Regions from separate parts of the Homo sapiens genome. Here regions 2, 3, 4 and 5 are each linked to region 1. The links come from fine-mapping of genetic effects on gene expression. A gene starts in region 1. Each other region holds a variant in brackets. All regions are shown on one strand. Distances are from middle to middle. Region 1 holds the start of PPP2R1B (protein phosphatase 2 scaffold subunit Abeta). Region 2 overlaps PPP2R1B (protein phosphatase 2 scaffold subunit Abeta). Region 3 overlaps SIK2 (salt inducible kinase 2). Region 4 holds the start of CRYAB (crystallin alpha B). Region 5 has its middle 57 kb from the start of LINC02764.

Region 1 (5,103 bases):
GTCTTGAACCCGTGAGCTCAAGTGATCCATCATGTGCACCACTGCCCCAGGTGACTTTTTACATAAAGTATAAGAAAACAGATTCCTCCTCTCAATGCCTACAGGAATCCCCTCTGATCTTCTAACTGGTAAAGTACTAAGTTAAAAAAACCTCTTAGCCCTCTGTCTCTCCAAGTTGGGTAGTATTAAATATATGAATCCATTTTTAGCCTGGGCAGCATGGTGAGACTCTGTCTCCATACACACACACACACACACACACACACGCACACACACACACGAAGCTGGATGTGGTGGCACATGCCTATAGTCCTAGCTACTCAGGAGGCTGAGGCTGGAGGATTGCTTGAGTCCAGGAGTTTAAGGTTACAGTGAGCTATGATTGTGCCACTGCACTCCAGCCTGGGAAACGCAGCAAGACCCTGTTTGTTAAACACACACACACACACACACAACACAATAATTTTTTAAAATCCTGAAAACTCTCAGTTAAGTCATTATTATTATTATTTTAGAGATGGGGGTCTTGCTGTGTTGTCTAGGATGGTCATGAACCCCTAGGCTCAAGTGATCCTCCCACCTCAGCCTCCCAAGTAACTGGGAAGACAGGCACGCGTTACCATGTTTAGCTAAATTGTTTTTATTATGCTGTGGTTATTTAAATTTACGAATATAAAGTAGGAAAAATGTGCTTTTATTTCTAGTTCTTACACAGCTAAAAAAAAACCACAACAAATTTACAAATTAAATACAAATGAAACCACAAAATGAATACTATTCAATTAAAAATATTATAGTAATTTAACGTGACAAATGATGTATTTTGCTAAAACTGTCATCCGTCGTATTGTTACTATGGTGTTGCCTGCTATAGCTCAGCTTCTTTTGTGTTCAACATGCCTATGCCACCAAGTGACTCCTGATATCTTAATTTTCTCACCATTTTTCTGTTACAACTACCAAATAGTGCAATCTCATGATGCATTTGGCTTTCATTTTGTGCATGAAAGTATCATTGTCATTTTAAAACCACCTCTGTTCTTTTCTCATTATCCCAGAACAATAAAAGCAGCACTAAAACACACATGTAAATGTGGGTGCTGAAATTGTGTGGCAATACTTGGTTGTAAGGTGGTCACCCAAATAATTCAGAATATGCTTATACAAATCTAAAAAATATGAAAATGAAAATAAAATTAAAACCCTAGAGAATACATTCGCAGACATAATTTGAGAAAAACTGTTCAGGTCTGCTGGTTCCCAAACTTTCATTACTATCAAAGGCTCTAGCTATTGTGCTTACTTCCAAGAACCCCATTTATTTATTTATTTATTTATTTATTTATTTATTTATTTATTCATTATTTCATTCATTCATTCAAAGGCTCTATTGTGCTTACTTCCAAGAACGCTATTTATTTATTTATTTATTTTAGAGACGGGGTCTCACTCTGCCGCCCAGATTGGAGTACAGTGGTGCGATCCTGGCTCACTGCAACCTCTGCCTCCCGGGCTCAAGCGATTCTCATGTCAGCCTCCCGAGTAGCTGGGACTACAGGCTCCCGTCACCAGCCCAGCTAATTTTTGTATTTTTTAGTGGAGACAGGGTTTCACCAAGTTGGCCAGGCTGGTCTCGAACTCCTGGCCTCAAGTGATCCGCCCGCCTCGGCCTCAGAATCCCATGTTTTAAAAAAGTTTGTCTCCTACACTGCATTTATAGTTTTATTAATCAGGCACATAGAATTACCATTTCGGAGCTTGTGATCACCATATGTAGTTATCACTCCAAGCTGCTTAAATTCCAGTCTAAAACAAACAAAACATTCTAATTATTCTGTGCTACCCTGACAGGGGTAAGTGAAAACTTTCCATTCAGGTTTGTAAGAACGAGCTCCCAGACCTCCACCTCTTCCCCTTGCTGCCTCTGAGGACTCTTGGAGGTCTAGGGAGGCCAGTTTGGGTTTTCTTGCTCAAGAAAGTAGCCACCCCACCCAATTTGGAAGGATTAAAGCTTGTCCTAGTTTTGCTTCATTGTTGTACTTCTAGCATGCTAAAGAGCTAAAAAATGGGAGGAAGAAAATACAACAGAAGGCACCATTCCAGTACCAAACTGAAAAGAAACACAAAAACAAGAGAGCAGCATGTTTTTAACAGCTTGCGTGGAAAAAATATTGACTGGGGAGTTTGGACAGCACTGTTCATTTTCTCTCACCGCCCGCGTTATTTGTCTTACGGAGCAGGAGCCAGATACCATTCTGGAGAAAGAGCCGCGGGAAGAGGTGGAGGGGTTCTGTGGAAGTTTGAGTCTGAGCGGAGAAATTAGGGCTGGAGATCCAGTGGCTCAGGGCCAGGAAGAAGTCAGGGGAGGTGCTAAAGCCTTTTTCCTCCTGGCCTCGGGCACTCTCTTTGGTCCGCCTGAGTCTTAAGAGGGCACAGCGCAGATCATTCAGGTAGGTTCCTGGCTCCTTCAGACTACAACGAGCTGGATGAATCCCTGTCCCTGTTTCTTTCGGCTGGGGAAAGGACGCAGGGGTTCCATTCGCTTTCTTAGCCCACCCGTCTTCTTGAGTTCAGACCTACAACTCCTGCAGTGGGGGTCAGAAGGGAGCCTTAATCATCGGGACAGAAACGCGGCTCCCCAACTTCGGCTAAACCAGCGTGGCGGCCTTCGTCCCTACTGCCTGGGCGCGGGGCGGGGCCTGGGCGCGGGGCGGGAGGCGGTGACCAGCAGCAGGAGGAGAAAGAACATGGCGGGCGCATCAGAGCTCGGGACCGGCCCAGGAGCAGCGGGTGGAGATGGAGATGATTCGCTATACCCGATCGCGGTTTTAATCGACGAGCTCCGCAATGAAGACGTGCAGGTACTGGACTGAGGCCGGGGACCCGAGGCGAGACCGGCTGGTCGCGTGGTAGAGAAGGGGGAAGGCCTGCGTCGCGGTGGGGGTGGCCGAGGTACTGAATGAGTCGGACTCGTAGCAGAAACTTGAAGGGGAGGCGGGGAATGCTCCGCGAGGGGCTGTGGTGACACGCCCCGACCCTCCCGGGTACCTCTCTAGTAACCTTGCTTCGGACCCCCTGAGGCGTCCGCCCGGAGCCTTGCCCTTCCCGGGCGGTTGTCGGGGAACCCGCTTCCCGCCTGGGCGCCCCATCCGGGCCGTGAGGTGGCCGCGTCTCTTGGGCGAGGGAGCAGGAGAAGCGCGGTGCCAGGCCGAGACGGGGCTGGAGCGGCTGAGGGGCGCAGGATGCCCAGAAGCCCTTTGAAGTGCCCCTGGATCCCTTCATCTCGGCTTGGAACTGGCTCGGCTTGTTGGGTAGAAAGCGGGGGTGGGATGGCCGATTAATCTGGACGAGTAGTGTATCCGCTCTGTGGGAACTTTTCTTTGAAACCACAGGTGTTGTATTCAACCGTTTCACCTGCTTCACCACTGCCAAAGTGCTCTCTTTTTAAAATTATCTTACTTCCTAGGTGTTGTATTGTCTTTCCTTCATTTCTCTTCCGGTCCCTTCTGAGTGTTTCTCCTGGGAAATCCTCCGCCGGCTAGTGAGGCCGAGTTACACTTCTTTTTGGAAGTCCTTATGAGCTTCCTTAACAGTAAAATCTAAATGAAAGGTTATCTTCATTCTTACCCCTGTGTCATAATTTCACCTGTTAGCACCTTTTGTCTTTTGATCTAAATTCAGCCGTTTCTTTACATTGTTCTTCTTTCTACTTTCTTTTCTGAAGCTCCGACTCAACAGTATTAAGAAGTTATCAACAATTGCCCTAGCACTTGGAGTAGAAAGGACCCGAAGTGAATTGTTGCCATTTCTTACAGGTATGTGAATCTTTGTTTAAAGAAAGGTAGGGACATTCCATTTTCCAGTAGCTTTCAACACTGACTTTTTTAGAGTTTATTACCCACATTAAAATGAGCCAGGTGTTTTTTGTGCAAAAGAAACAGAACAGAGTATATTGTTAGTTGTGGCTAGATATATTCAAACATCAACCATTTAGCTATTGAAAGTAATTGATACGGGAGTATGAATTTCTAATTCGTTGTGCAAAGCAGATACAGGAAGACGGTTGAGAAGAAAGAAAATGCTGTTAGGATTTTGACTGGGTCACCTTCCTGGTCGCATAGTGAATCTGTTCCTAGTTTTGTGTCAGTGTCCAGCTGTGGGAGAGCTATCCATGTTGATGAGTCCTGTTGTTGTCACTTCCAGATACAATTTATGATGAAGATGAGGTACTATTAGCTCTTGCTGAGCAGCTGGGAAATTTCACTGGCCTAGTGGGAGGTCCTGACTTTGCCCACTGTCTGCTGGTGAGTATTTATAAGCTGCCTACCCTCCTTCTACAACTTTTGCAGTATAAATGATACATTGTTTGGTGATAGACACACTGCAGCATTTTTTATGCAGATCTTTTTATGGGCAGATAGTCATAATGTTAGTCATTGAGAGAATAAGTACTGTAGGCACTTTGCACTCAACTCCTTTTTTTTTTTTCTGTAAATAAGAGAACTTCGTCCTCCTTTTCTGCGTCTGTAGACTTATTAGTTTAGATGTAGGGAGAAAAAGGGTTTGATTGTTTTTATGGTTCCCCCGCGCGATGGTGGAAGTTTTAATTCTCACCTAGCAGCATTTTGTCTTTGTCAGTTTAACTTTTGCTTCTGACTTTGTGAGTTTGATGAATTTAGTTCAATTTAATTGACATTTATTGAGAGTCTACTTTATCAGACACATCATAGTTTACAATGTTAATGTTGAAGAAGACCAATGTGAGGGGGCTTGGTGGCACAAGCCTGTAGTACCAGCTACTCAGGAGGCTGAGACTGGAGGATCACTTGAGCCCAGGAGTTTGAATCCAGCCTGGGCAACATAGTGAGACCCCCATCTCTTAAAAAAAAAAAAAGACCACCAAAATGAATCTAATGAGGTCACTGCCTTTATGTGTCAGCAAATAATTACCGTGCAGTCGTAAATGGAAAGATATAAGTACCCACAAAATACCCACGTAATAGAAGGGAGAAAGGGATTCACTCCGGGTGATCAGGGAAGACCTTGGGAGATGATGTCTGAACTAGGTTTTAAAGGATGACCAGGAATTCAACAGTTGGACAA
Region 2 (5,103 bases), 30 kb after region 1:
TAGGAGCTCTGTAAGGCTGGTATTTTTGTCTGTTTTATCTTCTACTGTATCGCCAGTGCCTGGAACAGTGTCTGGTGCACATAATAGGTGCTCAATAAAAATGTGTTCAATGGATGAATTTCTAAAATATCCTCCAATGTGTGCATGGAACAAATAATCAAAAGAACCAGACTGTGTCTTATTCTCCCACTGACAGAAAGATTTTCCTGCTTTCAGGAAACAAGCTTTATGTGGCCCTTTTCTGGTCCCCTGGCTTAGACTACAGTTCTGTGTGGATTTGTCTGATTGCTTCAGACATGTAATGTTGTTTTTCATCCTTGGCAGCTTACATCAGTTGTTTGTTTGATTAGAAAAATGAAGCAGACACACACACACACACACACACACACACACACACACACACACAAACATATAACCTATGCCAATAAAAATGTCTCAGCAACAGTGGAATTCACCTTGGTGTTTCTCTCTGTAATTTGTGTGGGGTTTACCCCTCACAGGTTTAAGAGACCAGGTCTTGTTTCTCTCTCTGTGCTACCAAGAAGATGTGAACCTGAGGATGCATCTTGTTTCATAAGAAGGAAGGCAGGTGAATATGTGGTTTCTAACGAGGTCTTGTTGAAATAACGGGCTGCCCTCAGCTCACAGAAATACCACAGCTCAGCCACTGTGATGCAGAGCCCCAGGGGTCTTTGCCAGACAACTTGTCCTGACTCAACAGAGACGGCAGCCTGACCTTTGAGCTGGCTTGTCCAGGCATTCAGGTTGCTTGCGTAGACTTCCAGGGAAGCAAGCCTGTCCTTCCTGACCCGGCGGTTAACCTGGTGCACTTTTGTTCCTTTGTTAACTGTTGTGTTGTCACTAAACTGAAAGGCTGGGGCTTGCCCTTAGACGTCACATTGGCTCTGTCCCTGTGGCGATGGCAGGGCAGGGTGGCCAAACAGGTCAGGTGCTTGTTCTGTCCTCTTGCCTTTTACTTAAATTCCTCTGACTTTTAAAAATGGTGACACTCTTATCGTAAAGCTTCTTATTTTTCTCCACTGCTTGGATATGAAACTGTAGAGGGAGAGGCCCTGTTGCCCAGTGTTCTCCTGGTTTAGCAGCTGAGGTGACTGCAGTCTGATGTGATGTAACTGTTTCCCTTTGATTCTCCAGTATTCCTGTTTCCATCCAGTTCCTTACTCTCCTCTTTCCTCTTCCCTCGCATGTCTCCCTCCAGTCCTCTGTACCTAGAATAGTCTCACTGTCCCCCGTTTGCCTCCACGAGCCTGCTGTTTCCAGGAAATTACATAACGTTCAGTTGGGATGGAAATCTTCCGGAGGACGAATAGAGTTTAATTACTCATTGCGTCGGAAAGCCAAGCCATTTCTGTCTCCAGAGTTGTTCTCTTAAACTGATATGAGTTCTGAAAGGAGCCAGGTCTTTCCTGTGGTTGGGGCTCTGGAGACCATCAGTGACCAGGATGTGGGGAACAGCCAGGTGGACACCAAAAGGCCCGATGGGGTGGCGCTTTCCAGGGCCCCGAGGGAAAGGCACCTCAGCACGACCCTGGGCTGCCCCAGCTTTCTCTGCCCAGTGCCCCATATACTTGTAGGCTGCTGCTGGACACCCAACTCTGCTGGCACAACTGAGGGCATCCTGGCTGGGAAGCACAGGTGGGCTTGGGAGGGATGTGCCCTGGTCAGGGACAGTTACAGCGCCACTGTCTGTGTCTCTAGTGGTGGCACAAAGGCTGAGGAAGCTAGAATTTCCTGTGAAGGACAGTGGAGAACCCAGTGTCCCTCGGGCTGACAAGAACCACTTCCCAAGACCCACAGTGCCTGGAGAGGACATGGGGAAGGTAAGTGCCCGGAAGCCTGGGGTCAAGTCCTGCCCTCAGGGCTGCGGGCAGCCAGGGTGGCATGGTGTGCAGGGAGCTGCCACAGGGTAGGCGGAGAAGCAGCACCTCTCACTTTGTCCCCAGGGGAAGAGTCCAATTTTAAGGGCCGGGAGTAGATGGTTAAAGCCTGTTGCTGGCTTACTTCATTCTGGGAATGCTTTCTGAGAGGTGGGTCGCCGGCCAGAGCTGTCACTCTTGTAGCTTGAGGCCCATCTCCTATCACCTCCCAGTCCAACAGCGAGGCCCATACAGAGGACACCAGTGGGGTTTGGTGAAGAATTGCTTGTAAAAAGGGGCTGTTCCCACTTTCCTCACATAATATAGAAGTGACTTGCCATAATTCCTCTCAGTTATTTCCATTCAAGATAAAAATAGTTGCAAGTTTCTCTGTAACAGCTCAGATGTTCTACAAGCCCCATTGGATGCCACTCTGTGTGGAAATGGTGTGAAAAGCCCCAGTTCAGCAGTCAGTGGGTGCCAGCCACTGCCCCAGGGCCATTCATTAGGAGGGCGATTTGTGGCTTACAGATACATTCAGAAAAGGAGAGCAGCAGGGCTTGGCTGCCTCGTGCGGATGCCAGACTGCGTTTAGTTCATGGGGAAAAATCTGACATTCTCACACCCATTCTAGTAGGTTCGCTTAGTGAAAATTCAATGAAGTAACATCAAAAAGGCTGCCTTTTAAGTCACATGGCTTTTCATTTTATGTGAACCGAAACCATGAAAACGTTTTTTGCCTTTTGTTGAGGTCCAGAATCGCAGTCACTCATCTTAGAACATTCTTGCCTTCCTGAGGGGCTGCACACTTGTCCGTGGGCAGCTCCAGCCGTTCCTGCAGTGGCCGCACAGTGAGAGGAAGGGCTGGGTGACCACTGTCCAGTTGGATTCCAGGGGTGGCCAGCCCTTGGAGTCCATGTCGTCTTCACAGAACTGGGCCTCAGGGAGGAGAGCTTGGCTGAAGGAGTGGGAGTGACAGTTACACATTTTTTAGGCCTAAACCACAGACTTCTTTGGGAAGAAAGGGGTTACGTCTTCCTACAAATTCAGAGCCAGCTGCTCATGCCATGAATGCGTGGTATGA[C/T]CCGATCTGAGTGTGGATCATTGAGGCGGCCCTCCCATGGCTGACCTGCTCAGCTCTGACAGGGCCCGGGCTGCCTCTGCTAGCCGAGGAGTTACTGAGAATAAGTTGCCGTTACTCGAGCCTTGGTCACTGCAGCACCTTGTCAGGCACTTCAAATCTCATGTCATCCTCACCCACCCTAGGTGGTAGGTGCTATCATTGTTTTTTGGTCCCTCATGAATCTCCTCCAACCCCTGGCATGTCTATTTGGGAATCTTTTTTCCAGGAAAGGAGGCCCAGTGGTGCTAGGCCTCTGAGGCTTCAGTTCATTTAACTCAGAAAAATCCCCCGCCCCATGACTCAGGGAGCCTTCCATGCATTTGTTTCACTTAAGGAAAATGACCCGAGGGTGAGATGGAAAGGGAATTGGCTGTTGCCAGGCAGAGCCCTGTGTGTCAGGGGCCAGCAGCCAAGTGAGTGATCCAGGAAGTCATCCAATTGCAACCAGAAATTGTTCTTAACCCCTCACTGTCTAGGGTGCGTAGTGGACTTGCCAATCTGTCCGAATGGGGTGAGCGTGAGCGCGCTGCTGTTGAGAGCCCTGGGAACTGTCAGTTCTCAGCCAGCCTCAGGGCCCTCAGGGAGCCATTGGACATCCCTGGGGCTGGGCCCGCCACTTGAAGAGAAAAGGGAAAGGGCGAGAGCCAGTCTCCCTTGGTGAAGAGCGCCTCCTTGGCACCCTTGAAGTCTGTGGAGGTGCCTCTGTGTTGGATGTCACATGTGTCCACCCAGGCAGGATCTGCCAGGGAGCAGCGAGGGTCACCTCCCACACCTTGCTGCCGCGGGTCCGGCAGCGGCTCACTCCTGGACGGGACACAGGGTGCCCCCGCTGAAGCTGCTGACGGGCCTTGTCAGGCAGGGGTTAACAGGGGATTTGTTTATTGAATCACCAAGTAGCTGTCACATGATTTTAATCAAAACACCATTTCCCTGACAACAGTGATGTCAGTCTTGTTATTGCAGGAAGGAGCAGCTGTGAGGGACATTCAGTCTCCATGCCGAGCCCAGGTTTGGAGACTAAAATCAAGTGAAGCATCCATAAATAATGGCTACAGACACTGCCTGACTGCGCCCACCCTCCTCCTCTTCCTTTTCTCTGCACACAGTCTGTCCTGTACACACACTGACCCGAGACCAGCCCCTGCGCCACGTCCCAGCTAAGACCATCTTCTGCCTTCCATGCCCCTTCTACTCTTGTTTCTGGTTTTTTCCTGCCTGCCTTATTTTCCCCAAACTCAGAGAGTCCCTTGGGCCCTGAGGGTCTCTGACTTGTGCCTTTCGATGCGGGTCTCTTCTCTGGATTTAATCAGCACCTGCTGGTGAACCAGGCTGTTCTGGGCCTGAGGCTGGAGCCATTCTGCAGCTCAGGAACCTCACTTGTCCTAGAGCCAGCCTCTAGCATCTAGCTGCATGTCCTGTTCCTCCCACAGAGTTAGGCTGGCAGGGCCTTCGCGCTGCCCTGGGGGGTCTCAAGGGCAGCTCTGAGGAGCTCTGCTGGGAGTGTGTGAAGGGGAGGAGCTCCTTAAGGGCCAACCTCTTGGCCAGCGGATTTTGTTCTCTTGAACCCAGAAAGACTACAGGAGATGTGAGTCCAGTCAAACTGAGGACTGATGACAAAGACCAAAGCCCAGGGATGTTCAGTCCCATCCCCAGTGGCTTCCAGCTAAGGCAATTGGACCTTGAAGTCCATGGGGAAGTCAGACGTAGGCTGGTGACAGGGCACACGGGAGCAGGTCCTTAGGCTGACCTCCTGTCAGTGCCCTCTCCACTGTGGGGCCTAGGGGCCGAGCTGTCCGCACAAAAAGACTCCCCCAGGCCTTCCAAGTCTTTTCCACACTGGAGCTTGACCTAACAGTTGGAGATAAAAAAGTCCTCCTACCTGTGACATAGATTCTCAGGGATGTTCTTATGTTTGTGGTACCCATGTCTGATGCCTAGAACTCATTTCCGAAAATTCAGAAATCCTGGGGCAGAGTTCCCAGTTCTTAGCCTGAAGCAGATGCTCAGAACAGCACAACCACCCTTAAGTCAGTGAAGACAGAGCTCACAGGCAAGAAGCAGCCATTTTCTGTACCTAGTGTTGGGGCAGGCAAGAGTTAAAGT
Region 3 (5,103 bases), 120 kb after region 1:
CTTGGCAAAACTGCAAACTGGGAGACTAGATTTCGCTGCTCTACCAATTTCTGTCATTCCTTACATTCCATAATCCTCACATATGAATGTCCCAACTGACTGAAAAAAATGGCTAAAAACTCAGAAGCAATTCATTTTGGTCATAACTTTTTCATTGCCAATTTCCCACAGATTTAGTGTATCTAATGACAAGACTTGAAGTTCTATGTGTTTTTTGTTATCTCAAGATTGATTACATTGTTTCACATATGTATGTGTATATATATGTATGTATATATGTAATATTTATCTTTTTTATTTCTGTATTTTTACACAGCGGATACTCAATAATTTTGACAGGTTTGTAAAGAAATTGTGTTTAGGTGGGATCTTAGAAGCACCGATGTATTATCTTCAATCATATAAAGTTATGTGAGATAAATATTTGTACAAAGAATTGACTCCTTGTTACAGCTTCTAATTATTCCTATGCAGCATTCATGCAAAGCTTTTGGAGTAGCAAATGACTTCCATTAAAATTATCAGCTCACCAAGAAAAAAGCTATAGAGCTTGCAAAGTCCTCCTGGCTGGAATAATGTATTTGCCACTGACAAAGCCAAATAGCAACTTACGCTGTAGCAAAATAATTAAAATGGAGTTCTTGCCATAGTGTAGGTGTTCAATGCATATCTGTTAAATGAATGAATGAATGTACAAACAATGGCTACCTATATACACATCAAGTGTAAGCATATTATTAAGTTCTGGGATACACGTGCAGGATGTGCAGGTTTGTTACACAGGTAAACGTGTGCCATGGTGGTTTGCCACACCTACCGACTCATCACCTAGGTATTAAGCCCTGCATGCATTAGCTATTTATCCTGATGTTCTCCCTCCCATCACCTCCCCTGACAGGCACCAGGGTGTGTGGTTCCCCGCCCTGTGTCTTTGTGTTCTCATTGTTCAGCTCCCACTTATAAGTGAGAACATGTGGTGTTTGGCTTTTTGTTCCGGCATTAGTTTGCTGAGGATAATGGCTTCCAGCTTCACCCATGTCCCTGCAAAGGACATGATCTCATTCTTGTTATGGCTGCAAAGTATTCCATGTACCATATTTTCTTTATCCAGTCTATCATAGATGGGTATTTAGGTTGATTCCATGTCTTTGTAAGCACATTATTTTACCTTAAAAAAACACAACTAAATACAAGCAAGTTTCCAATTCAAACTCAGAGTCTACCTAATTCCTACAGATTGCTACACTAATAACTGAAATTTAAATTACTTTTGGTTAATTTTACCTTAGTAAATTAAAGAACAATCTTCCTTTTATATGATATGTGAAATATTAAGCATCTCAGTAAAGAATATGTAGCTTGAGAAAACTTAATATATAACTCTAACGTGAAGTCAGATGTGCTCCTAAAAGACAGAGGTCCATTAAAAGTGGTAAAAATCATTTTTATTTTCATGTATAAAATCAAAAGATATAAAACATTACTTTTCCTCTATGCCAAAATTCAACAAAATAGTACTCTTTCTAGAAAACTCATGCCTACTAAGACCAACCGTATTTTTAGGACTTTGATTAAACATTAAAGTAGAGCTCACTTTGGTTTTAGCTCTATTGAATACAACTTTGCTTCACAAGTCTATTACTTTCATCTACCTTATATAACTTTATGAAAGTTATATATTTTTCCTATTTTCAACATAGAGTAACTTGGAAAAAACAAGCAACATAATCAATTCAAAGGATTTATATTTTGCTGTTTGAATTATAAGAGGTATGAATAGAAAAAATGGAAGAGGTTGAGAATGACTGTTTAAGATCAAAAAAATGTTTATATATTTTTAGATATTGATACCTAGGCCTTTACTTTCTCCAAACTAATAATTACGTCAAAGATTTTATAACTCTACTAGAGCATCATATCATTACAATTTCTGCATTGAGTGCACAATAAATATTTTTTAAATGACAGGCAAAGAAGCATTTGTGCTTTTTAGGGGAAAGTTATTGTCGTAAGAGCTTTTTCTTACTGACTTTTAATGCAGAGGTTGAAATTCTCCCTAAAGCTTTCAAAAAAAGCAAGTAGAATATATACCTACCAGTAATTAAATTTATGTTTTACTATGAAAAATCAGAGATTTTCTTCCGTTTTTTCAGAAAGTTCAAAATGGAGATGGCTTAATCAAGTCATGAGTTGAAATCTAGTTGCCCAGAGAAGCCAAAGGAAAAGATAATTGCTAAAGTTAAGATTTAAAATGTATCTAAATTAAGGATATTAAGCTGTATTTTAGTTGTTTAGCATATATGTACACCTACTAATCCAATGTTTTATGGGAGAAAGATCTACACAATCACAATCAAACAATAAAGCTTTCAGGACAAATGAACTGTCTATAGTTAATGCTGAGAAGACACTACTGAGTTTGCATATAACTCAAATTTGTGTTAATTAGTAAGCCACTAAACTATTTTTCTGCCTCTTTTTATTCCCTAGGTCAACTTCTGGATATGCAAATACTTATGAGAGCTCCTAGCACAATTAATTTTTTT[A/T]AAAAAATAGAGCTATTCTGGAGAAAAGATCTTGTTAGTTATGAGAAAGTGATGTTGAAAAAAGTATTTGCAGTATCTTCCTTCTGGACTCCCACCACCATCATGACATCACTGCCACCTATGCCATCACAGAGACTCTGTATTAGCACAATAACAGAAGTACAGACTTACATCTGCATTGTATGTTACCATTTATAGAATACTCTCACATACATTATCTTGCTTAATCCTCATGAATGAACAAATGAATGAATGTTCATTCCTTGTTAGGTTACCACAGCAAGCATTATTAGCCCCAAGTAGATAATGTAACTACCCAAGTACATAATAGAGCTGGATAATTACACAAGTCTCCTGGTACCTAATAAGTGACTTTTCCCTTATTAGGGAAAAAAGTATAAAAGTATTACTTTTATACTTTATAGTATAAAGTAAAAACTTTATACTATATTCAAGTACTGTAAGTAATATATTCAAATACCTTCATGTGGTTACCTTCATTTATAGTGAGATGTTACCTGATTCAGAGAAAATAATTTATCATGTATTTACAGTAACAATATATTATTTTAGGACACAGTGGTCACCAACTAAAGTGTACAGTGTTTGATTAGCAGATTCAAAGTCAGAGTATAGAGAGATACATGGAATATGTGCAAGGATCAACACAACGCTGTACTCACAGATGGAGAGACAAATGCACAGAAAAAAGAATGAAACTATGTGACACTATCTTAACCAGCTACAGTATGCTGAAATATAAGGGGCACTAGAACACTGGAATGACAAGCTACATATCAATTATAAAATATGTGTAGCCTGACAGAATTTAGGAAAGAGTAAAAAGTATTCATTTTGCTGACTAACAATTCAAGAACACATTGAGCAGGAGACCATAATTGGTAGGGAGACATATACTGCAGCAATAAGACACACTTGCCTTAGCTTCCTCTCTCGTTGGAGCTTCTCCAAAAGATCTACATGCTAACATGTCTCTAAGTTGAACTGTAGAGCTGTCTCATTTTTGTTCCAGATGAAAATACAGTACCTATTTTTTCCAGTAGGAAAAGCAGTGTATACTCATTGTGAAAAAATTTAAAACACAAGAACAAACATACAATGTACAAATGAAAGTTCCCCATAATCCCAACTCCATAGATACAACCACTGTACAGCTTGATTCATATTTTCTAAACTTTTTCACCAGTCTGTGAAAATATATATATATACATGAAATATATATATTTCATGTATAAATATATTTACAGTATATATCAATAGGAGCCCATATTATATGCTATGGTCTTGTTTGTGTTTCCCCAAAATTAATACGTTGAAATCTAATCCCTGATGTGATATATTAGGAGGTGTGGCCTTTGGGAGATGATTAGGTCATGAGGGCACTGTTCAGGATTAGTGCCCATTAAAAGAGACCCAAGAGAGCTAACTTGTCCCCTCACCGTGTGAGGATGCAGTGAGAAGGTGCCATCTGAGAAAGTGGGTCCTTACCAGACACCATTGGCACCTTGATCTAGGATTTCCAAGCCTCCAGAACTGCGAGAAATAAATTTCTGTTGCTTATGTTACCCAGTTTAAGGTATTTTGTTATAGCAGCTCAAGAGAACTAAGGCATTAAAATAAACTGCTTTAAATAGTAAATAGTAATAATATATTTAAAAACCCAAATGAAATCATACCATGCATAGTATTCTACAACTATGTTTTAAAATCTCTTAATTACTTATTTTTATTTTTTCTTTATTTTTTCTTTTTTTGACTGCAAGCTCATCCTTAAACAACTTATTTTTTAACATTACAGATTCCCTAATTCCAAGGGTAATTCTTTTTCCAGCTGCATTTGATTTAGAAAGAGAAATTTCATTTACTATATGATAAAAATGGAATACTCCATTTTTGAGACTGCAGACTTATTTTCATCTATAAATAGAAAAAAAGTAAAAAAACCATCTTCATGACAAAAAAGGAGGTTTTTCTTTTTCTTTTTTTTTGAGACAGAGTCTCGCACTGTCACCCAGGCTGGAGTGCAGTGGCACAATCTCAGCTCACTGCAAGCTCCGCCTCCCAGGTTCATGCCATTCTCCTGCCTCAGCCTCCCAAGTAGCTGGGACTACAGGTGCCTGCCACCACGCCCGGCTAATAATGTTTTGTATTTTTAGTAGAGATGGGGTTTCACCGTGTTAGCCAGGATGGTCTCGATCTCCTGACCTCGTGATCTACCTGCCTCAGCCTCCCAAAGTGCTGGGATTACAGGCTGTGAGCCACCGTGTTCAGCCTTTTTTTTTTTTTTTTTTTTCGAGATGGGGGTCTCCCTCTGCCACCCAGGCTAGAGTGCAGTGATGTGACTATGGCCACTGCAGTCTCAATGCCAACATGCCTGGCGTATTTTTTGTATTTTTTGTAGATGTGGGATTTCGCCATGTTGCCCAGTCTGGAAAAAAGGGGTATTTTGGCTAACTGTATCTAAATCTAGTACTCAAATAAAAAAATCTGATTGATGATTTAATCTGTCATATGTCTGGAGGGAAATCTGTAATAA
Region 4 (5,103 bases), 150 kb before region 1:
GAAACCCAGTCTCTACAAAAAATTAGCCAGGTGTTGTGGCGCATGCCTGTAGCCTCAGTTACTCAGGAGGTTGAGGTGGGAGGATTGCTTGAGCCCAGGAGGAGGAGGTTGCAGTGAGGGGAGATGACACCACTGTACACCCAGCCTCGGTGACAGAGAGAGACTTTGTCTTAAAAAAAAAAAAAAGAACTAGGCATGTTTAGCTGGGAAAGGGAAGCCTCAGGAAGACAGGATGGTTATCTTTAAATATCAGAAGGATTTTCAGTGAAAAAACCATTGTGTTTGTTTTCCAGAGAAGTTACTGAAATGCAGATTTTGATTCAACAAAAGGAGGAATTTATAACGGTTAAGTCAGTTAAGACCAAAAAGAAAATGGAAGGCCAGGTACAGAGGCTCACACCTGTAATCCCAGTACTGTGGCAGACCAAGGATAGAGGATTGCTTGAGTCCAGGAGTTCAAGACCAGCCTGGACAACAAGGCGAGACCTCATCTCCAGAAAAAGTAAAAAATTAGCCAGGCGTGGTGGCACACACCTGTAGTCCCAGCTACTCAGGAGGCTGAGGCAGGAGGATTGCTTGAGCAAGGGAGGTTGAGGCTGCAGTGAGCCATGATCATGCCACTGCACTCCATCCTGAGCAACAGAACAAGACCCTGTCTAAAAAAGAAAAGAAAGAACATGGAAACGACTACCGTGAGAAGTTCTAAGTTGTCTGTTATTCAGAATGTCCCCGAATAAGTTGATTAATAACTTTAAAAGCATTTGAATGGAGAGGGGATTTGGACTAAATCAGAAGTTTTCAAATTTCTTATAGCTAGGAAACCCTTTCCTTTAAATAAAGCTCAGTTACAAAACATATCAATGTGAAGCTATTTTGGTTGAAGTCTAAGTAGAATCCTTTTCTTATTATTTTTCTTCTCAACTAGATTCTGGAAAGTTGACAATAAAAGCTAATAGTTTTTATAATTTATATTTACAATGTATATCCCCCAAGGTGTATTACATGAGGTTTGATAAATATTTACTGAATGAATGAATGAACAGTTAAATATGTCAAATGTTATTTCTCTGGGGCATGCTTTCATTTTTAATAGACAGCAATCTTTTAACCAAAAGTCGAATTCCTCAAGTGAGTTCTGTTATCCTGGAGGTCCACAGATCCCTAAGGGGGGTATGTGAATGGGTCTTAAGAGTTGTGGGAACCTATTCAAATTGTATTGCCAAATTTGGGAGCATATGTATTTTTCTGGTAAGAGCAGCTATAGCTTTTGTCAGATTTTCAGAAGGGTCTATAACTCCCAAAAGTTAAGAAACAACCACTTAATTTAATTCAATTCAATTTAATTTTTTTGAGGCAGGGTCTCACTCTGTCACCCAGGCTGGAGTGCAGTGGCGCAATCTCAGCTCACTGCAGCTTCAACCTCCCTAGCTCATCCTCCCACCTCAGCCTCCCAAGTAGCTGGGACTACAGGCATGCACCACCATGCCTGGCTAATTTTTATTTTTTTGTAGAGACAAGGTTGCACTCTATTGCCCAGGCTGGTCTCTTACTCTTGGGCTCAAGTGATCCTCCTGCCTCGGCCTCCCAAAGTACTGGGATTACAGGTGTGAGCTGCTGCACCCAGCCAAGAAACAACTGCTTTAATGGAAGAATTGTAGGTATCTACCACAGCCTAATGAAATATGTATTTGGAGGCAGGAAGGTCTTTTGGACACTTCCCCCAAATCATGTAGCTGGATGTTCTCTTGATTGCAGAGAATAACTGAGGGGACAGACCTCAGGCTTTCCTGAATACACCGTACCCCCAGAGGATGGGAAGGTAATGGGGTTCCGTGATAATTGGAGAGGCTTTGTGTCTGTGCCCTGTGTATGCATACTCAGGCTCTCAAAATCAGTGACCATTTAAGTGGACAGACCTTAGTACATGAAAACAAAGTATTCACTCCAGGACTTTAGGCAACTCTCACCAGCCAAAAACCATTTTCCCAGCCCCTACCCAAAAAGGGCCAGACAGTCTGGAGACCCTTGTTTTTGTGTCTCTAATCACCAGCTCAGACAGTGCCCTCTGGGCTGTTTGGATGGCATATCCCTTTTCCCTCCCAGGATCACTCTCTCTTTTGTTGCATTGTGAGAAAATTATGGCTAGGAATTTGATCTGGAGCCAGAGTCAGCTTCCGGGTGTGATCTCAGCATCCAAGTGCGAGCTCAGGGTCCTATGACGTTGGGCACATCAAACTGAGGAGCTTTTTGTCTAGCTGGCTGTGACCTCCTCCCTCCCTCCCCATCCCAGCTTCCCGGCCACAGAATAGGGAGCAGTACAAACAAGG[C/T]CCTGAGATTTGGGTTTATTCAGCTCCACCCAAAACTAAACCAAGGCTATGACATGTCCCATGGGACCAAACCATACATTGTGGACCATGCACCTTTCCCTTCCCCCAAGGATGCTGCTACCTCTGGAGTGGTGGGCAGCTGCCCATATCACCTTGGGAGGTAGAGAGGGATTTGCTGGGTGCTGGGTCTGTGGCAATCAGGGCTCAACTATGGCTGCCTCCTCCTCTTCCTCTGGATCAGGAGGCGCAGGGAGCAGGGAGATGTAGACCTCATTGACCTCTGTGTCCAAATGTCGGCCACCCCGAGGTGCTTCCAGGTTTAAGATGCCATCATGGGAGAGAGCAGCTCGGACTCGCCAGGGGTCGACATCAGCAGGCAGGACATAGGTGCGGCAGAACTCTCGGGACACGAAGCCGTGGCGGTCCAGGCGCTGGGGGTGCCGGGCAGACACCTCCAGCAGGTTATCCACAGTCCTCACAGTCACCTCGTCTGGGGTAAAGTGGCTCACATCCAGAAATGCCTGGAACTTGCCCTCACTGAGCCTAAGCTCGGAGGCCCCTGCCCTGCTGCCCTCCCCAGCTGGGGCGGCCCGAGGCCGGACATAGTAGCCATGGTAGAGTGTGGGGGTCAGGATCTCTTCTGGCAGGAGGCCTAAAGGGCAGAGAGAAGGCAAGAGGCAGGATGAGGGAGGATGAGGCTGGCACAGGGGCGAAATGGGAAATCTGGAGAGGAGGGATTGGGAAGAGCAAGAGGGGAGTCAGGAGGAGTAGGGAACGGGAGGGAGGCCACACTGTAGCTAGGAGGAGAAGGCAGCTCGGAAGAGGGGAAAGAGAACGGAAAGGAAAGGGAGGAGGAGGAGGAGAAGGAGGAGGAGGGGGAGGAGGAGGAGGCACCAAACGGCCTGGGTGGATAGAAGGGGGACAAGGAGGCACACCCAGGCCGGCAAAGAGCAGGTATCAGCACTGCAAGCACCAAGTGTGTCTTGAGGTCAGCAGGAATGGGAAAGATCTCTGCTTGGAGGGGATGAGGGGTAGTCTGGGGTGGGGGGTGGCTGGTCCCAGGAGATCAGTTAAGCCCAGAGTGGGGTGGAGGCCAGCAACGTTGGGAGGTCAGCCCAGAATTTCAGGGGGTGGGGGTGGGGGGCAAGGGGGTGGTGTCTGTGCCATACCTTCTCCGAAGCGCTGCTCACCCAGGCGGCTCGGGTTGGCAAATTCGTACTCGGCGGTGGCCGGGTGGGCATGTGGCACTGAGCGGCCCGACATGGCTGCAGATGCAGCAGAAGCCCTGGTCCGAGGTGCAGCCCCAACAGGCGCAGCGCGACCCCTCCAGCTGCCCGGAGAGCCAGGGCTCGATAGGAGGTGGGGGCGGGGTCGACACCACCCAAAATAGTGCCGAGCCTCTTGGGGGGGGAGGGGCTGGGAGTGGGGGCCCTGAGTGAGAGCAACGAGGGTGTGACCAGCGCCGCCCGGACCCCTAGTCCCCTCCCCCGCACACTCTTCAGCTGTCGCAGGGGGCCTGAGAGGACAGCTGAGGGTCCTGGCTGGGAACGAGCTGGGGAGGGGGAGCTGGTGGTGCCTGGGGCATGAAGAGGCCTCGCTGAGACCCTCACAAACGGTTTGCACGTTTCCACACCTCATTTTCTCCTCTTCGGTGGCAGGCACTGTGCACCCAATTCCTAAAGCACTCCTGGATTTAATGTTCTGAGAGCCACATAGAACGAAAGATGCAAGAAATCTGTTTGCTCTTTTTTCAGGGGGTGGGGTCTTTCTGCCCAGATGTGGGATCCTCTCCTAAACCCAGGTCAACCCAGGGCACGAGGCAGATGGCTGGTGCTGACATGTTGACCATCACTGCTCTCTTCCAAGGACTCACAAAGAGTTAATGTCCCTGGGGCTCAGCCTAGGAAGATTCCAGTCCCTGCCCAGGCCCAAGATAGTTGCTGGCCTGATTCCCCTGGCATTCAGGACTGGAAAGGAGGAGGAGGGGCACACTACGCCGGCTCCCATCCTCCCCCCACCCCGCGTGCCTGCTTGGGATTCCTGACTCTGTACCAGCTTCAGAGAACAGGGGTGGGGGTGGGTGCCATTGGGTGTGGACAGAAAGCTAGTGAAACAAGACCATGACAAGTCACTGGCCGGCTCAGACGTGTTTGTGTCTCTCTTTTCTTAGCTCAGTGAGTACTGGGTATGTGTCACATTGCCAAATCCCGGATCACAAGTCTCCATGAACTGCTGGTGAGCTAGGATAATAAAACCCCTGACATCACCATTCCAGAAGCTTCACAAGACTGCATATATAAGGGGCTGGCTGTAGCTGCAGCTGAAGGAGCTGACCAGCCAGCTGACCCCTCACACTCACCTAGCCACCATGGACATCGCCATCCACCACCCCTGGATCCGCCGCCCCTTCTTTCCTTTCCACTCCCCCAGCCGCCTCTTTGACCAGTTCTTCGGAGAGCACCTGTTGGAGTCTGATCTTTTCCCGACGTCTACTTCCCTGAGTCCCTTCTACCTTCGGCCACCCTCCTTCCTGCGGGCACCCAGCTGGTTTGACACTGGACTCTCAGAGGTGAGTCTCCCCACAGCTAGGACGGGAGAGTCCTTACTGGAACCTCCTGGAAACTTCTCCATCCATTTTCCTTTCCTACCCTGCCTAAACCATTTTAGGCACATGTGTGTCCAAATGTGAAGAAAAATGAGGAGGTTGCTAGTGCCTTCCTCCCCCATCACCTGTTTCTATTTGATAGTCCTCTGTATCCCATTTATTACATTTTTT
Region 5 (5,103 bases), 850 kb before region 1:
ACACGCACAACAGCATGGATGAACCTTAAAGACATAATGTTGAATGAACAAAAGCCAGACACAAGAATTTATACTATATGAGTCCATTCATATGAAACTGCAGAAAAAAAAATCTCACTACCATGATAGAAGTGAGTGATGGGCTTGGGCCTGGGGAGTGGGGTAGAATGGACTGAGAAACGGACAAGAGGAAGCCCTCCCAGGAGGCTTGATGTGTTGTTCAACTTGACCTGGGTTGAACTTGAGCTCTGTAGCTCTCTACTGTGCTTGGGAAGGTAGGTGCCCCCCAGCCCCATCAACCCTCCCTCTGACAGGGTAGCTGGCTGACTGAGTGTCCCATTTGCCTCAAGAAAGAGCAGATGACTCAGAATAAACAGGACTGGTCTTGTTCAGGTACACTCCTTTTTGTGTGTCCTAGGTAGGATTTTCTGTGTCCTAGGTAGGGGATTATCAGACGTCTTCCTATAGAAGCACTCATTGAGGCTGTATATGTGAGATTAGTGTACAGTTTCCTCTGTGCAGGTTATGTCTGAATTTAAAAGTTTTCAAAAAGACAGACATTAGAACTCCAAAAACTAAAACAAGAGTAAAAAGGATATAGACAGAGTAGCAAATACTAAAGCTGACAGAGAAAGAGAAAACTGCAGTGTGATTGCCAGTAAACCCAGAAGGGGCTGAAAAACACTAAAGCGTGCTACCTAATTACTCTTTCACTCCAGAAATGTGATCCATGGAGTCTGTCAGGACCAGAGATTTCACATCTCACTACAAAGACCCAGAGCAAGTTGCCTGCAATGGAAAGATACTTTAAGAGAAGAAAAGTCATTTTCTGTCCTTAAACAGGAAGGAACAAAAGATTATCTCTCCTGTCTGAACTGAGGGGTTATTTGAGAAAAACACTCAGGAATTACCCATGGGTAGGCTTTTAGGAAATTAAAATCTGCAAATAAGCTGGGCACAGTGGCTCACACCTATAATCCCAGTGCTTTGGGAGGCCAAGGCGGGAGGATCATTTAAGGCCAGGAGTACAAGACCAGCCTGGGCAACATAGCAAGACCCCCATCCCTACAAAAAAAAAAAAAAAATTTTAATTGTCCAGGTGTGGTGGCATGTACCTGTAGTCCCAGCTACTTCAGAGGCTGAGATGGAAGGATCGTTTGAGCCCAGGAGTTCAAAGCTACAGTGAACTATGATCATACCACTGCACTCTAGCTTGGACAACAGAAAGAGCCCTTGTCTTTTTTAAAAATAAAAAAAATCTGGATACAAAGAAAAGGTTGTTTCTGTGTTTCCCACCTCTGAAGAAGGAATCTACTCTGGGAAATTTCCACTCCCTACAATAGGAGTAGTATCTGCTGGGGACAGGTGCGTGCACGGTCTGAGTCACCTCCAACTCTGCACATGTCTGGAGCCAGCACTGTGGGGGTGGGAGGACAGGAACCACATCTGTGTCTTCCGGGTATACCTGCCAAGCTTTCAACCAGTTTCGAGGTGCCCTCAAAGTCAGGGCCAGCCGTTTGGAAGCCTGGGCCATTGCACTGACCTTCCCTCCCCAGGTATTCTACTCCTCGGCAATGAGAGAACATATCAACTCATCCTGCTCTGGGGAGGTCCCAGGTCCCTCAGCAACCACCCCCTACAAATAAAGCCTTTCCTCTCCCGCAGAGAGCCAGGGAAGACAGGGTAGGACTTCTCACCCTCCTGGCCCCTCCATCCCAGATACCTTGGCTGCATCATTTCATTTTTCATTTTGTCTGGATTAATTTTGCATTGCTGCATGATTCACACTTCCTGTCTGGCTTCCAAAGCACATAACTAGAGGATCCCTCTGGAGAGGAATGCCGATTAATACCTTTAACATGCCTGCTTCTGATGGGGAGAGCAGTAAAAATACATATTTTCATATTACATCTATATTCATCTATATATTTTTAACATGTCATTGTGCCACTTTGTACAGAATTGTCATTTTAAGTGGTGATTTGGCCTCACTCCAGGGATTGATGCATCAGGGTCAGGTGGCCTCTGAGGCAGCTGTAATTTTTATGCTGAGCTCCCATCATAGGAGGAGTTAGCCTGGGGAGATTCACCACATTGCAGAGTGCTGAAGTGAGTGGTTCTCAACAGAAAGGGCACAGCTTTTAAAGAGAAGAAAAGTCTTGTCTTTTTCTCTGTTTTCTCAGAGAAGAAAGAATAAACCCTTGCCTGGACTGAGGGATTATTGCAGATGAGACTCAAAAAACATTTATATAACACCCCCAGCCAAAAGTCCCCAGGACACTGTTAATAGGAGTCAAAAGGCCAATGGAAATGTAGCCCTGGAGCATTTGTGCACCTGGAGGTCATT[C/T]AGGATTGAGGCCAAGGGTGTTTGTGCGCCCCTGGGGCCTGCAGGTGTGGTAACCCATACCCAGGTATCTACCAGCCAGCCCTTCCACCCCTAGGAAGAAAGGCTCCATGAAGTCAAAGTGAGAGAGGGAGAGTCCTCCAAGATCAGGAACTTCTCTTTGGGGCCAAATGAACTCCACCCAGAAGTGATGAAGAAAGGTAGGTAATGGATTGCTCAGACCACAGAACACCTGGCCTTCAAACCATGGGCTAAAGAAATCAGAATTGCGCTTTAAATTCTTCTGTAAAGGGGCATTTGCAGAACCACTGTCCTCTCCTCTGTATGAACATTGGGACCAGGATCCAGTTCCAGCTTTTCCAGGCTCCCGTCTCCCTCCCTCCTCCCTCCTTGCAGGCGCGTCCCCTCCCCTCCCCTCCCCCCTCCCACCCCCAACCCTGTGCTGCTGGACAACTGTTCCTTGCCCTGAGATCCTCTCCTATGGTAGAGCTTCCCTTCCTCCAAGTGCCTATTTAGAACCAGAAACAGAAATGGAGAAAAAAAAATCTTATTAAATATGTGTATTTCTGTTATTCCTTTTGGTGGGATAATCCCTAACAAACCGCAGCTGCAGAAGACTAACTGAGCAAATGATGGGAGGATATAAATATCTAGAATTACTGTATCTCAAATTCCGTTTTCCTGCTGCAGCCCCAAAGAGCCAGATTTAATTTTTAAAAGAGACTTCAGAGAGGAAGCCTAGGCTCCTAGCAAGGCTTTAGATACTTAATAAATGAAATAAGGCCCCTGTCGACAGAATTGAATGCGTATGTGTGCATCGGTGCACACTCGTGTCTGTGTGTGTCCACGTGCATGCATGTGTGTGTATTGGCAGGCAGGAAGAAGGTGGCTGCAGAGCCTGTGAAGATGAGCGTCAACCACCAAAAATTCTGATTTCCACACCCCTGATATAGGACACTTGTTTACATGAGAAGGTGAGAAGGGAAATTAAACAATGATTTTCAAATCCCTTAAGAGCTATTATGCAGCAAATATCATCCAGCTGTTCTCCACCTCCTGCCCCAGTTTCCCATCTGCTGCCTGTTTTAAGTGGCGCTTATGGGACAAGACCACTCACCACCTTTTGGTTGGCAAACTCCCGGGTATTTTGGCATGTGAGTTCTGTACAGACTGTCCCCTTGGAGATGGAGTTGGCAAGACATGGCCATTCCAAGTGGACTGGAATCCAAGTCTATACCATCTGGGTGGTAGGCTCTGCTCAGCGGGTACATGGACCTAAGCCAATATGAGCAGTGCATTGATACTCTCGGGGCACAGTGCCATGCTGCTGGTGCCAGATACCAGAATCACTCCCTGGATCCCCTGAGAGCAGTTAAGAAAAAATCAAGACTGGTGATTTGGAAGACCTCCCAGTAGGCATCTGGCCTCTAGACATGGAAACCAAATCAAATCTTGGGCTAGAAGAATATGGTACGCACATATGCATTTCATTCATCCATGCAACAGTTATTTACAGACCCCTGTTGGGGGCAGAGTTTCTATCCCAGCTTTCCAGCTTGGGCTTTATTGTTGCCTATGTTAGTTTGTTCTGCAGTCCACCCTAACACAGGGTAACTTAGCCTTAAAGGAAATGAGTAATTTCCTCTTCTGCTGGATAGAAAAGATTTCCACCCCCGTTGCCCTTTTTCAACTCCTGTGATAGACCTCCCTGCTCTCAGGTTTGCCTTCAGTTTTATTGGGCCACCTGGTTTTCAAGTGAAGGTGCTGCCTCCAGGGAGCCAGATACTGAGGGACTTAGAGCAGATGAATGTGACTTAGGAGGTAGATGGGACTAGGGACATGTTTTCCCTCCTCCTTGGTTCTGGTGCTACATCCGGCCAGGTAACACACACATGGAAAGTAACTATTTTGAATTCTGGTCCCAGAGCTGGAGGTTTACATGATCTGGAGACTTGGAGACCAAGAGAGATGCTGTATGTTTATTACCCCAGTTATCTCTCTCTCTGTAACTTTCATTCTACACCTTGGAGGGAGATATTTATTAGTCATGAGGTGGTCATACCATGCCAAATCTCACAGAGAATGAAGGTCCAGTCCCTGGCTCCATCTTACAACACTTTTTCACCATCTGTACTCTGAAACTTTGACACACATCCCAGAAATAGAAGAGGCTCAGTTCATCCCCTACTTCTATTGTTGCTCTCTCCTCCTTTGATGACAGATGTGTGTTAACCTGACTTGTTCTCTTATGAGTTCCTTGAAGGCTTCTTTGCTTATTCCCAAGTACTAGCACAGTGCTTTTCATATAAAGGGAACTCAGTACACAGTTGTCAAATGAGTGAATGGATGAATAGATTACAAAATGATTTACAGGTGATACTCTCACAGTGCTTTTGTTTAAAGAAATTGACAGGCCAGCTTTGCAAGAAAACCTACCCTTCTATTCTTCTAGGGTGAATGAGAGTAACTCTTATTTTGTATTAAAACCCCTTTTTTAAGTAAGAAAAGAAGGTAGATACATTTGAGCCTTGTTTGCAAAGCTGCTTTAAACCATTCCTCTGTAAACCAGTCCAAATAGAGTGCTTCTATCTAGGGAATAGAAAGGCCAATTAGAGGTCAATGGGCTCCCTCTTCCACGCCACTATGGAGACAAGTAACAGGTAGCCCAGTGTTACTTAAGCCACTGTGTCTGCACCTAATCACATACCCTACTCATTGTCCATGAATCCAACTCATCCCATCCCATATGTATCTGGCAA

Evidence for each region. PIP is the estimated chance that this variant, and not a neighbour inherited with it, causes the effect.
Region 2: its variant is fine-mapped to the expression of PPP2R1B in whole blood (TOPMed, PIP 0.96).
Region 3: its variant is fine-mapped to the expression of PPP2R1B in whole blood (TOPMed, PIP above 0.99).
Region 4: its variant is fine-mapped to the expression of PPP2R1B in caudate (GTEx, PIP 0.99). The same link has a PIP of 0.9 or more in whole blood.
Region 5: its variant is fine-mapped to the expression of PPP2R1B in putamen (GTEx, PIP 0.97). The same link has a PIP of 0.9 or more in nucleus accumbens.

What each region holds. Positions count from the first base shown.
Region 1 is chr11:111,764,006-111,769,108 of GRCh38, reverse strand. PPP2R1B (protein phosphatase 2 scaffold subunit Abeta) reads left to right here and starts at 2,720. Exons shown (of 15, transcript NM_002716.5): 1 at 2,720-2,861; 2 at 3,725-3,815; 3 at 4,204-4,304. The coding sequence starts at 2,748. It also overlaps a transcript of ALG9 not described here. RefSeq lists enhancers at 2,655-2,704, 2,725-2,904, 2,791-3,694.
Region 2 is chr11:111,734,186-111,739,288 of GRCh38, reverse strand. It overlaps PPP2R1B (protein phosphatase 2 scaffold subunit Abeta), which reads left to right. Exons shown (of 15, transcript NM_002716.5): 15 at 1-1,412. Among named protein-coding and RNA genes, the nearest start is that of PPP2R1B, 30 kb to the left of the region's middle. RefSeq lists an enhancer at 3,609-4,245. The variant C/T (reference allele first, on the strand shown) is at 2,962.
Region 3 is chr11:111,647,320-111,652,422 of GRCh38, reverse strand. The region is part of intron 3 of SIK2 (salt inducible kinase 2); the gene reads right to left. Among named protein-coding and RNA genes, the nearest start is that of SIK2, 47 kb to the right of the region's middle. The variant A/T (reference allele first, on the strand shown) is at 2,547.
Region 4 is chr11:111,911,317-111,916,419 of GRCh38, reverse strand. CRYAB (crystallin alpha B) reads left to right here and starts at 4,650. Exons shown (of 3, transcript NM_001289808.2): 1 at 4,650-4,896. The coding sequence starts at 4,696. HSPB2 (heat shock protein family B (small) member 2) reads right to left here and starts at 3,686. Exons shown (of 2, transcript NM_001541.4): 1 at 3,497-3,686; 2 at 2,327-2,979. The coding sequence starts at 3,590. The coding sequence ends at 2,525. HSPB2-C11orf52 (HSPB2-C11orf52 readthrough (NMD candidate)) reads right to left here and starts at 3,684. Exons shown (of 5, transcript NR_037651.1): 1 at 3,497-3,684. RefSeq lists an enhancer at 2,282-2,935. The variant C/T (reference allele first, on the strand shown) is at 2,328.
Region 5 is chr11:112,610,085-112,615,187 of GRCh38, reverse strand. No RefSeq gene overlaps it. Among named protein-coding and RNA genes, the nearest start is that of LINC02764, 57 kb to the right of the region's middle. The variant C/T (reference allele first, on the strand shown) is at 2,348.